Linked DNA regions of Homo sapiens: region 1 is linked to region 2. The links come from fine-mapping of genetic effects on gene expression. Tissue or cell type: fibroblasts. Region 2 holds a variant in brackets; the other region holds the start of a gene. All regions are shown on one strand. Distances are between the middles of the regions.

What was found. PIP is the estimated chance that this variant, and not a neighbour inherited with it, causes the effect.
Region 1: CACHD1 starts here. The variant in region 2 is fine-mapped to the expression of CACHD1 in fibroblasts (GTEx, PIP 0.99). The same link has a PIP of 0.9 or more in lung.

Annotation. Positions count from the first base shown.
Region 1 is chr1:64,467,309-64,472,457 of GRCh38, forward strand. CACHD1 (cache domain containing 1) reads left to right here and starts at 2,821. Exons shown (of 27, transcript NM_020925.4): 1 at 2,821-3,634. The coding sequence starts at 3,437. LOC107984966 (a long non-coding RNA gene) reads right to left here and starts at 2,717. Exons shown (of 2, transcript XR_001738100.2): 1 at 1,878-2,717; 2 at 965-1,062. RefSeq lists a silencer at 3,031-3,150 and an enhancer at 4,950-5,149.
Region 2 is chr1:64,629,531-64,634,679 of GRCh38, forward strand. CACHD1 (cache domain containing 1) reads left to right here. Exons shown (of 27, transcript NM_020925.4): 6 at 3,069-3,213; 7 at 4,514-4,730. Among named protein-coding and RNA genes, the nearest start is that of MIR4794, 52 kb to the left of the region's middle. The variant G/A (reference allele first, on the strand shown) is at 3,096.

The DNA of each region.
Region 1 (5,149 bases), 160 kb before region 2:
TAGCTATAGACACTGGGCTAAATAGAGCTCCAGGATGCATGAGTTACCATCCTGGCAAGCTTGCTTGCAGTCTAGCATTAGTTCATAAGACTAATGTCAGGGCGGGGAAGGGGGGTCTATAAAATGCATATTCCAGGACCCACCCCCCACCTCCAAAGATTCTGCTTTAGTAGACCTGGAATAGAGCACAGGATTTGCAGTTTATTAAGTGTCCTGAGGCTAGTGTGTTTGGTGGATCACACTTTGAGAAACAAGGTGGAGAAATCAAAGCTTTCAAGTGGAAAATCACAATGTTGCTTGTTAAGCGCTGAGGGGACATTAAGTGCTGAGAGAAGAACCAAGAGCTTTGGAGCACCAAAGAGGAGCCGTAAACTCTGTGGGGGTAGGTGTCACAGAAATGACACCTCAGCTGAATAGGGGACCTAGCAAGTGGAGAGAAGGGGAAGAATTTTGAGGCTGCCATATAGGTGTTTTCTGGGAGTGGTGAGGCAACTGAGGGGCACAGTGGCTACAAAAAGGCCAGAAGAGCAAACAGGGTCAGAGCACAAAGGGCCTTGTTTGTTAAGTTTACTTATCTGTGATGGGGCATCAGAAATGTTTAGATTAGTGAATGACAAGTTGAGATTTGACTTTTAGAAAGTTGATTTTGACTTCCATGTGAAGAACAGAATGAGGGGGAACAGAGAGACTGCACAGAGACCCATGAGGAGACTGGTCATAATACAGGCAAGCTGCAATGAGGAACTGAAGTCAGGCCATAGGATGCAGATGGACAGCGGGGGATGGACACGGGAGATATGTTGGGAGCTGGGGTGGATGGAGAGTGCGTACCTAGCTTGCAGAGTGGGTGACATCCACCTAGATTTGCAGCCAGACATGGATTTAGGTGGAACATGGGGGAAAGCAGTAATGAGTTTTCATTCAGGTATATCTACTAGAGAAGTCAGGAACTTGCTAGAAAAAATGGAGATCCAGGTTGAGCTTTATTTAGAAGTATGATAAACTCGTGTTTGGTAATAATTGAAGGCATAGATGTGGTCGAGAGTCCTCAAAAAGAAGAACCTTAGAGTGAAAAAAAGGTGACATTGGATTAGCATCCCAAGAAATAGGACCTCAAGAAATACCAACATATAAAAGATGGGCAATAAATGCCTATTGTGAAGGCATTTCAGAAGGAGTTTAGAGATGTGTGACACCTTGGTGATGGTAACCTTGAAGAATCAAATAAAAAAATAATGCTATATGTCATTATTATTTTTGTTCTTTACTCTTCCACTAATCACATGGACTAATATGCTTTCTCTTGCGGAGTGTCATGTCAAAGGTACAACAATTTAAAAAACGGAAGTTAAAGGATCATCTTTCTAACAAATGTCAGCTCAACTCCAGGAATAGAAGACATACAGGTAGGTTTTTACCTCATTATTAACTCAAGAATCATTTTTCCAGTACTACTATGTGCTTGTGTGGATGATGTGGAGGTGAAGGGATTGGTCCCCACACTCAACATGCTTGCCTTAGTATGTAAAACAAACATCACAGGCTAGGCGCAGTGGCTCATGCCTGTAATCTCAGCACTTTGGGAGGCCGAGGCAGGTGGATCACCTGAGGTCAGGAGTTTGAAACCAGCCTGGCCAACATGGCGAAACCCTGTCTCTACTAAAAATACAAAAATTAGCAGGGGAGTTGAGAATGGAGAAGTGATCTCAATGAGGTAAAAATGGGCCAGGGAGAGCTTACAAGAGAAGATGACTTTTTAATACAATATAGTCAAAGATGTAAAACAGAAGGTTTTGCTGTAAAATGAAAAGAGTCCTAAATCCAGGTTCTAATCCTGCTACCACCTCTGCTAGGTAACCCTGGACTAGTCCTTTAACCTTCCAGTGTTGGCTCTGTTCTCCAGGAACCTGCAAGCAGCAACCACACAGGGCTTGGAAGGGAGAGTGGCTGTTCTCCACACACAGCAGGTTGACTTGTTCCAGGTGCTTCCAACAGGTGATTTCTCAGCGAGCCTGAGCCAGTAGTCAGGGACAAACAGGAAGGTTAACCTTGCCTCTCCATGCTTGGGAGAACAGGTGTGTGCGCGGTGGACTCCGGTTCAGTCGTTCTTTTTCTTTTTTCTTGCTTTTGATGGGATCAGATGGTTCATTTCCAAAGAGAGACAGAGAGAACTGTATCGTATTTAGGAGCAATAGCCTTGGAGTAAGACTTGTGCTTAAACTCTGGATTTGTTTCTTATCCCCTGGGTGACCTCTGGCAATTTATTCCACCTCTCTAAGCCTCAGTCTTTGTTACCTAAAAAATTGGGATAAAGATACGTACCTCCTATGGCATGTCGCGGAGATTAAAGGATAATGTGCACACCCCCGAGCCCAGTGCCGGGCACACGGTGGCTGGTTGCAACAGAAATCTGTGGGTGGAACGCTAGCTAGCCATTGTGATGAATAACATCAAGGAGAGGGAGTGGACCTACACATGGCAGTCCCCTTCTTCCCCAACCGCTGCCAGGCAGACAGCCAGCGTCCTAGAACTTAAAGGACTTTTCGATGGCTGGAACCTGGGCCGGGTGGGCTCCCTGGCGCGGACGGAGGCGGGGAGCGCTGGCGGGGGTCTCCGTCTCCAGCCACGGGAAGGTCCGTGGGCTCCCCTGCCCGGGCTGGGCCGGTCCCCGAGCAGAGAGAGAGGCTGGTCCCCCGGCCCCCGGCGTCCCGGGGGGCAGGTTCTGAGGCGGGAGCCAGGGAGAGAGAGGAGGGGCAACCGGGGGAATTTCCCCGCCTCTCTTGCTGGTTCCATAAATCACCGCAGCCGCCGCGGCGGCCCAGCCGGGAAGTGCACAGAGCCGGAGCGCAGCGTGGTGGCACCAGACGCCTCCCTTTCCCCACCGCTTGCTTTCTTTCTTTCAGTTGTGTGGGTTTGTGAAGCCTCCCCTTTCCCTCCTCGCTCGGGTGGCTGCCCCAGTCTCGCAGCCCGGCCGCCGCTCCTCTTCCCCGGGGGCCGCCGTCAGTCCTCGCCGCCGCCTGCTCGCTGCGCTGGGACTCGCAGGAAGCGAGAGCCGCGCGGCTCGGCTCGGGCTCCGACTCCGACTCCGATTCCGACTGTCAGCCCCGGGGCCCGCGCACCCCGGCCTGCGGGCGCCCCTGCTCTCGGAGACGCCCTCTGCGCCGCGGGGCCCGTGTGGGCGCCGGGCTCCGGGGACCGCTCGGGCGGCCGCCTCCTACCCCCACCGCCGCGGAGCCCCGCGATGGTGGCCGCCCGCGCTCCCGCGCTGTAGCCGGGCGCCCCCTAAGTTTGGGAGCCTTCGCCACCGCGGCGCGGAGCAGAGCCTGCAACAGAGGAAGAAACTTTTGCGGGGTGCGCCGCGCTTTTGCGGGGGGCACCTCCCGCGGCCCGCTTCCCCGCGCCCGGAGCCCGTCGGCGGGGAGTGGGGGGAGGCAGCATGGCCCGCCAGCCGGAGGAAGAGGAGACGGCCGTGGCCCGGGCGCGGCGGCCGCCCCTCTGGCTGCTCTGCCTGGTCGCGTGCTGGCTCCTGGGCGCCGGGGCCGAAGCCGACTTCTCCATCCTGGACGAGGCGCAAGTGCTGGCGAGCCAGATGCGGAGGCTGGCGGCCGAGGAGCTGGGGGTCGTCACCATGCAGGTAAGTGGCCCCCGAGCTGGCCAGACATCCCGCCTTTCTCCTTTGCTCAAACTCCCATCCCACTCCCGGTACAAGTCCCCTGGACTGTGTGCATCGGCTCCTTGCATACATAGAGCCCGGCTTCCCGTCGGACCCCTCTGTCCTCTGCACAGACCCCCTGACAATACACCAACTCTTCTTCCATGCATTCGTCTACCCCTGCCCTTCTCTGGAGAATCCCCTGCCCTCTGCACGGAACCCACTTGACCCTGCACAGCCCCCCTCTTCTGAGTACCAGCGCCTTCATCTCGTCAAGGATTCTCCAGTTTCCTCGCACGTCTTCTCTAATTTGCACACATTTCCCATGTAGGCTTGTTTTCACCCTGCCACGCCTGCAAACTCCCCCTTTGTGTCCCCATCCCAGAGCAGCCAGCCCCGTCTGGCTCGGACGATTTTCCGAAGTCCCCACCCCACCCCCTTGACCGCGTCCTCGCGTCCTCGCGTCCTCCCTACCGAGGCGCACCAATGGGCGCCGGGAGGGAAGGCGCCGCAGAGTACGCAGCTGCCCCGGGGACACCTAGGTCCCGGCGGAGAGCGGCCCTCCGAGTGGGCTCCGCGCTCCTTTCCCCTCCCGGGAGCATGGGGGGAGGGGCTGGCCTGGTAGATTCTGGGTAGACTCCCGACTCTAATCCTGCTGGGGGACTCTTTTTGTTGCTTTCCGCATATCCTGCTGTAGTTTGCGTGCTGTCTGCTGTATGATTTTTGTTTCGTGTGTGCCTTTTTGGGTCGAAGAAAAAGGGAGCAAAGTGAATAAGGTTCCCATTTCTCCAGATTGTTTATCATGTCCGTCCTCCTCGGGAGAGGAAGGAGGGCTGACAGAAAAACTGCCCGCAGCTAGTAAGGAATCCTGATGATGTTACTCACGACCAACAGTAGTAAAAATTGCTGAACACCAACCACCTGGAGATTCTGCCCCGCTGTTATTTTAATCCACTTGGCCATAAAGGCCCACTAGATTAGGAGAGGTTGAGATGACATTCCCAGCTTGAAACCTTTGCTATAACATTCTTAGATAAAATAACACCATTCTCTTACACATTCTAACAATCATGGGGATGAATGTGGTCTTCGAAAGATTGAAGTTTCCAAGAATGCGTTCTTGGAATAGGTTTCTGATTTCCATCCTACTGTGACCACTCCTTCCACCTCCCACCGGGAGAGGTGTTTAAGTCACTTTTGGGATTTAGGTTTCTTACTTCTTTCTTCTTCGTCGCGTCGTCCTCCTCGTCTTCTCCTTCTCTTCTTTCTTCCTTCTTCTTCCTCCTCCTCCTCCTTCTCGTTCTTCTCCTCCTCTTTCTTTTCTTTTTCCTTCTTCCTTCCTCTTCTTTCCACTTCCCCACACCAATCTCCTCCCAAGAGGTTACAATTTTCTTGAGGAAAGTTCCACAGACCTTCTCTACTGTGGGGAAAGACCACCGGAATTTTTTAAAGGGTGACATGAGGACTGAGGAGTGGATGGATTTTGAAAGGTAATTT
Region 2 (5,149 bases):
TACATGAAATATAAAACTTCTCATTTCTACTCATGGCTATGCCTTTAAGCTGTGGATTCAGAAATTTGTACTTGTTCTGAAATGAATTCACCATTTAGTATATGTGGATGTGAAATTCCAGGCAAGGGCAAATTACAAAACCCAGAGCTTTCCTATAGCTATCTAATATGCCAAATATAAAAAGGTACTTACTCGTGAAGTCAAATTGTGTGAAGCACCTAGAGTGTTTTGAGTTTCAGAATTCTTTGTTGAAATGTAAATGATGGTACCTTATCTATAGTGCAGCCCTTGAACATAACTTTATAACATATCTCAGAGTAGTTTGTTATACTCAACTTCCCTTTCTATGATGACATGCTTGGCCATACTGCATGAAATTTACATGCAGATTTTAACTATTAGAAGTTTTGAGGTGAGCAGAAAGCATTGGATTAAAAATTACTAACATCCTGCTTTTCTCTCACAGACATGACTTGAGATTCTACCATGTAGCCAGAAGGGCAATAATGGTGAGATACTTTGTATGACAAGACTCATTAATTATAGAACCCCCCCGAAGCAAATATACTTTCCTATTTAATCCTGACAGTTTCCTGTTTGCAGTGTTAGATGTTTGATGCCAAAACATCTGGAGCTCTAGTGCAGGGCACCCACTTTTCACACCATTTTCTGGAGTCTACACAATTACTTTAGCTTCCCTTCATCTTCACTTTAAATTTTATCTAGAATTTTTCCCCAAGGAAAATACTTCATCTGTGCTTTTCCTAAGATTTTTTTTTTTTTTTTCCTGAGATGGAGTTTTGCTCTTGTTGCCCAGGCTGGAGTGCAATGGCACGATCTCAGCTCTGCAAACTCTGCCTCCCGGGTTCAAGCGATTCTCCTGCCTCAGCCTGCCGAGTACCTGGGATTACAGGCACCCACCACCATGCCTGGCTAATTTTTGTATTTTTAGTAGAGACGAAGTTTTGCCATGTTGGCCAGGCTAGTCTCGAACTCCTGACCTCAGGCCTCCCAAAGTGCTGGGATTACAGGCATGAGCCACCGTGCCCAGTCGTCCTAAGATATTTTTATTGTGTGTGTGGTTTCTTCCTTTCCCTCCCCACACATTCTGGTGAAGACTTGGGTGTCTTGGAGACTGGACCAGAAGCCATGATCATGGCTTCTCACGAGAACAAAGGCCACCATGAACCATCTAATTCTCATTTGCTTCTAAGAAGAGATGGGCTAGATGGCATGCTGATTTTAACGAAGCACCTGTGAAGAAAAGTTTAAAAAGGAAAGTGAAACCTTGTCAAAATCAGCATTCACCTACACAAGGCAATTCGGAAAGTTTTCATGTATCTCCACCCTAAATCTGCACTAATTAGCCCTTGAACCTCTTTTCCCTTGGCTAAATGATCCACATTTCTCTCTGATAGACTGCGATTCACATTTCTTGTCCTAACTGCTTTCCTATGATGCCTTTCCAAGTTCTCTACATTCTTTGGAAGTATGGAATGGATTTCAGGACATAGCAACACAAGAAAGGAAGTGGTAGATACCAGTCATTCTATGAGGACTGCCCCCCAGTTTGTACATTTAACATCACTATTTATATATCCCACTAAAGCAGCGTTTAACAACTTAATGTGACAATGCCAACACATATCCCAAGTTTCATTTATGTGAATTGAATTTTAACAAAGGAAGTGTGTCATTTTAAAGAAAATCCACCCATCTAGCTTGGAGAATCTAAAAAGTTAAATATTTGACCTACTTGTCAGTGTTGAGATGATCAAATTTTCCTTCTTTTCTGTACTCTGTTTCATTTCTGTAGCCACCTCTCCTGGATTCTTTTTATTGCATTTCCCTAGTGGCTCAATGGTATCGACTCATGAAAATATAGTGGTACTTTAGTAATTACTGCAGGACTTTGGGCTTGAGAACAACTAGTGTAAATTTGGCCAGATTTTGAGTTTTTTTGGTACTTTGCCTGCGTTTCTTAATTTGTGCCCAGGCTTTTGTGATTCAGCTGGCATCTAACATTTCACAGGAAAATCTAGTGTTTTAAGGATGTCAGTAAAGGAGAGAATTCTCTTGAGGCTGATTTGCTTTCTTAAACTCCTTCTAATTTGTTCCAGCTTTAAAACTGTGAATAGAGACCTCATTAAACCTCTTCTCACAAACCTTCCTGCACTGCACATTAGCAAAAGGCTGCTTTGATGGGAGGCATTTCTCCTTTGTGGCTGCCCCCAACCCCCTTTTTTTCAATGTTGGCAAACAAAAACCTGGCAAGAAGAGTGGCTATCACAGACTTGGACAAATTTTGATGGCACAGTTTTAAATGCTCAGATAAGGGGCCTTTTGGTGGCTGACCTATGTGAATTGTTTCAGTCCAGAAAGGAAAGGGGCCTCTTAGCAGGAGCCTTTGTATGAGAAGAGAGAAACCAAACCTGCCATTCAAAGCTGCTCAGCATGCTCACGGGTTATAGGCTGCCTCACTTCTAACCAAGCCCCACTCTGCAAGTCTGCAGAGGAGAATCCAACCCTGGTGATGGGACCTTTTTCTCCTTGGCTGGTCTCTCAGCCCAAGGGACCACTACATCCACATCCTTTAGCAAAACAGGTACACTGGGCAATACCAAGCAGAGGTTGTGCATATTTTATATGAGGATTTTAACTACTAGAAGTTTTAAGCTGTGCAGAAAGCATTGGGTTAAAGAACACTAACATCCTGCTTTTTTCTGAAAAAAAAAAAAAAAAAAAAAAGAGAGAAAAGCAGGATGTTAGTGATGCTGAAAAAGCCAACCTCTGAAAGGGTTTGCTCCTGAAAAACTTCTCTTGTCTGCTTTGATCTTTAAAGGCATAAATTACCCATCCCTGTTCTACAGACACACCTTGTTGTCTTAAGTATTATTTTCAATGCACCAATATGGTTTCTCCTTCCATGTGGATTTCTCCATCCTTGTGCCATCCCTGGGAGAACACAGAGACCAACATGCCCATGCACTGTAGTGTTCACAGCTGTGTTAAGTTGAGGCCCTTTACCTAAACCAAGACTGACCCCAGAGAGCTTCTTCTCCCTCCAGACCCATCTACGTCTCTACAGTCCGGCC[G/A]CAGTCAAAGCACATAGTAGTGATTCTGGACCACGGGGCTTCAGTCACAGACACTCAGCTTCAGATTGCCAAGGACGCTGCTCAGGTCATCCTCAGCGCCATCGATGAACATGACAAGGTGACCATGACCCTTGTGACCCCTATGGCATCAGGTTCTCCTTGAATGCCTTTTTTAAAGTACTTTATTGTTTTGTGATATACAGATCCTCCTTGACTTACAATGGGGTTACATCCTGATAAATCCATCATAAGTTGAAAATGCATTTAATACACCTGAGCTACATCACAGCTTGGGCTAGCCTACCTTAAACAGTCGGAACACCTAGGTTAGCCCTCAGTTATGGAAAATCATCTAACACAAAGCCTATTTTATAACATAATAAAGTGTTGGCTATCTCGTAGAATTTATTGAATACAGTACACTGCAGAATACTATATCAGCGGTTCTCCTTTATGATTGCATGGCTGACTGGGAGCTGCGGCTCGCTGCCATTGTCCAGCACCATGAGAAAGTATCAGGAGCCTGGGAAAAGATCCAAAATTGAAAGTACAGCTTCACTGCCTGCCTATCGCTTTCTCACCATCATAAAGTCAAACCATTGTATGTCAGGGACCATCTGTATATTTTTTTAAATCCATCTTTAAAAGGACTTTGGGAAAAGAAAAGACTTTGGGAAAAGAGTATTATTCTAATATTTGAGGAAGCAGCCACAAATCCAAAAATCCCTTTCGTAACTACCACCAAGCTTAGTCTTATACTTCTTTATGGCTCATGGTAAGGTTTCTAATTAGCCATGACTTTCACACTGGAGGTTACGCTGAGGAGGAGAGGGGTGGGAGATTTGGATGCTGATGGATGGCTGAACTTTATTGCAAGATTGTTGGGAAGTCAGGAAGAAGGGAAAGCCGCTAGTGGCTGACTAATCTCTGGGACACCTCAGAGAGAGGTGTGGGTACAGCTAATGATAATCTATTGCCTGTGGACATTTTCTGCTTCATCATTTTGACTTTGCCAACTCCAGAGGTTTTGCTCACTAACCTAGTGGCTTAAAACACACACACCTCACTCTCTTACCCTCACCCCTCACCTCCAGGTTGAAAAACAGGATAGTTCATTCTTGCTATGACTTTTCTCTGCATAAAATAGTTTGTGTGTGTGTTTAATGTTATGTATGAACATAATACTACCACTTCATGTTGGAACAAAAACCAAACTCTAGGGGTTTCCCCACTTTACCAATCCTTATGGATCCTTTTCAAATTTGATAGATGGATGGCTCCAGGGATTTATTTTGAAACTCTCAGAATCTGTTCTGTAGGCCTTCTTACTCCTTGGCCTCTTCTGTTACATAAATAAATAAATCTTTAGACGGTAGGATAACAAGTTTGGTGGTTTTTTTTTTTTTTCTTTCCTGCAGATTTCTGTGTTAACTGTGGCAGATACCGTCCGGACTTGCTCACTAGACCAGTGCTATAAGACCTTCTTGTCTCCAGCCACCAGTGAGACAAAAAGGAAAATGTCCACCTTTGTTAGCAGCGTGAAGTCTTCAGACAGTCCTACCCAGCACGCAGTGGGATTCCAAAAGGCATTTCAGCTGATTCGAAGTACAAACAATAACACAAAGTTCCAAGCAAGTGAGTGCGTTCTCTCAGAGGACTTAGAGGCATAGTAGATAAAGATGGCAATAGGAATATATTGTAAATTGATCACACAATGATGTTTAGAGAGATTTTATTTATTTATTTATGTATGTATTTATTTATTTATTTATTTACCTTGAGACAGAGTCTTGCTCTGTCCAAGCTGGAATGCAGTGGTGTGATCATGGCTCACTCCAGCCTTGACTTCCTGGGCTCCAGCAATCTTTCTACTTCAGCCTCCCAAGTAGTTGGGACCACAGGCTTATGCCACCACGCCCAGCTAATTTTTATATTTTTGGTAAAGAAAGGGTTTCACTGGCTGAGACCTGTCTGATCTCAAACTCTTGAACTCAAGCAATCCACCTGCCTTTGCCTCCCGAAGTACTGGAATTACAAGCATGAGTCACCGCGAC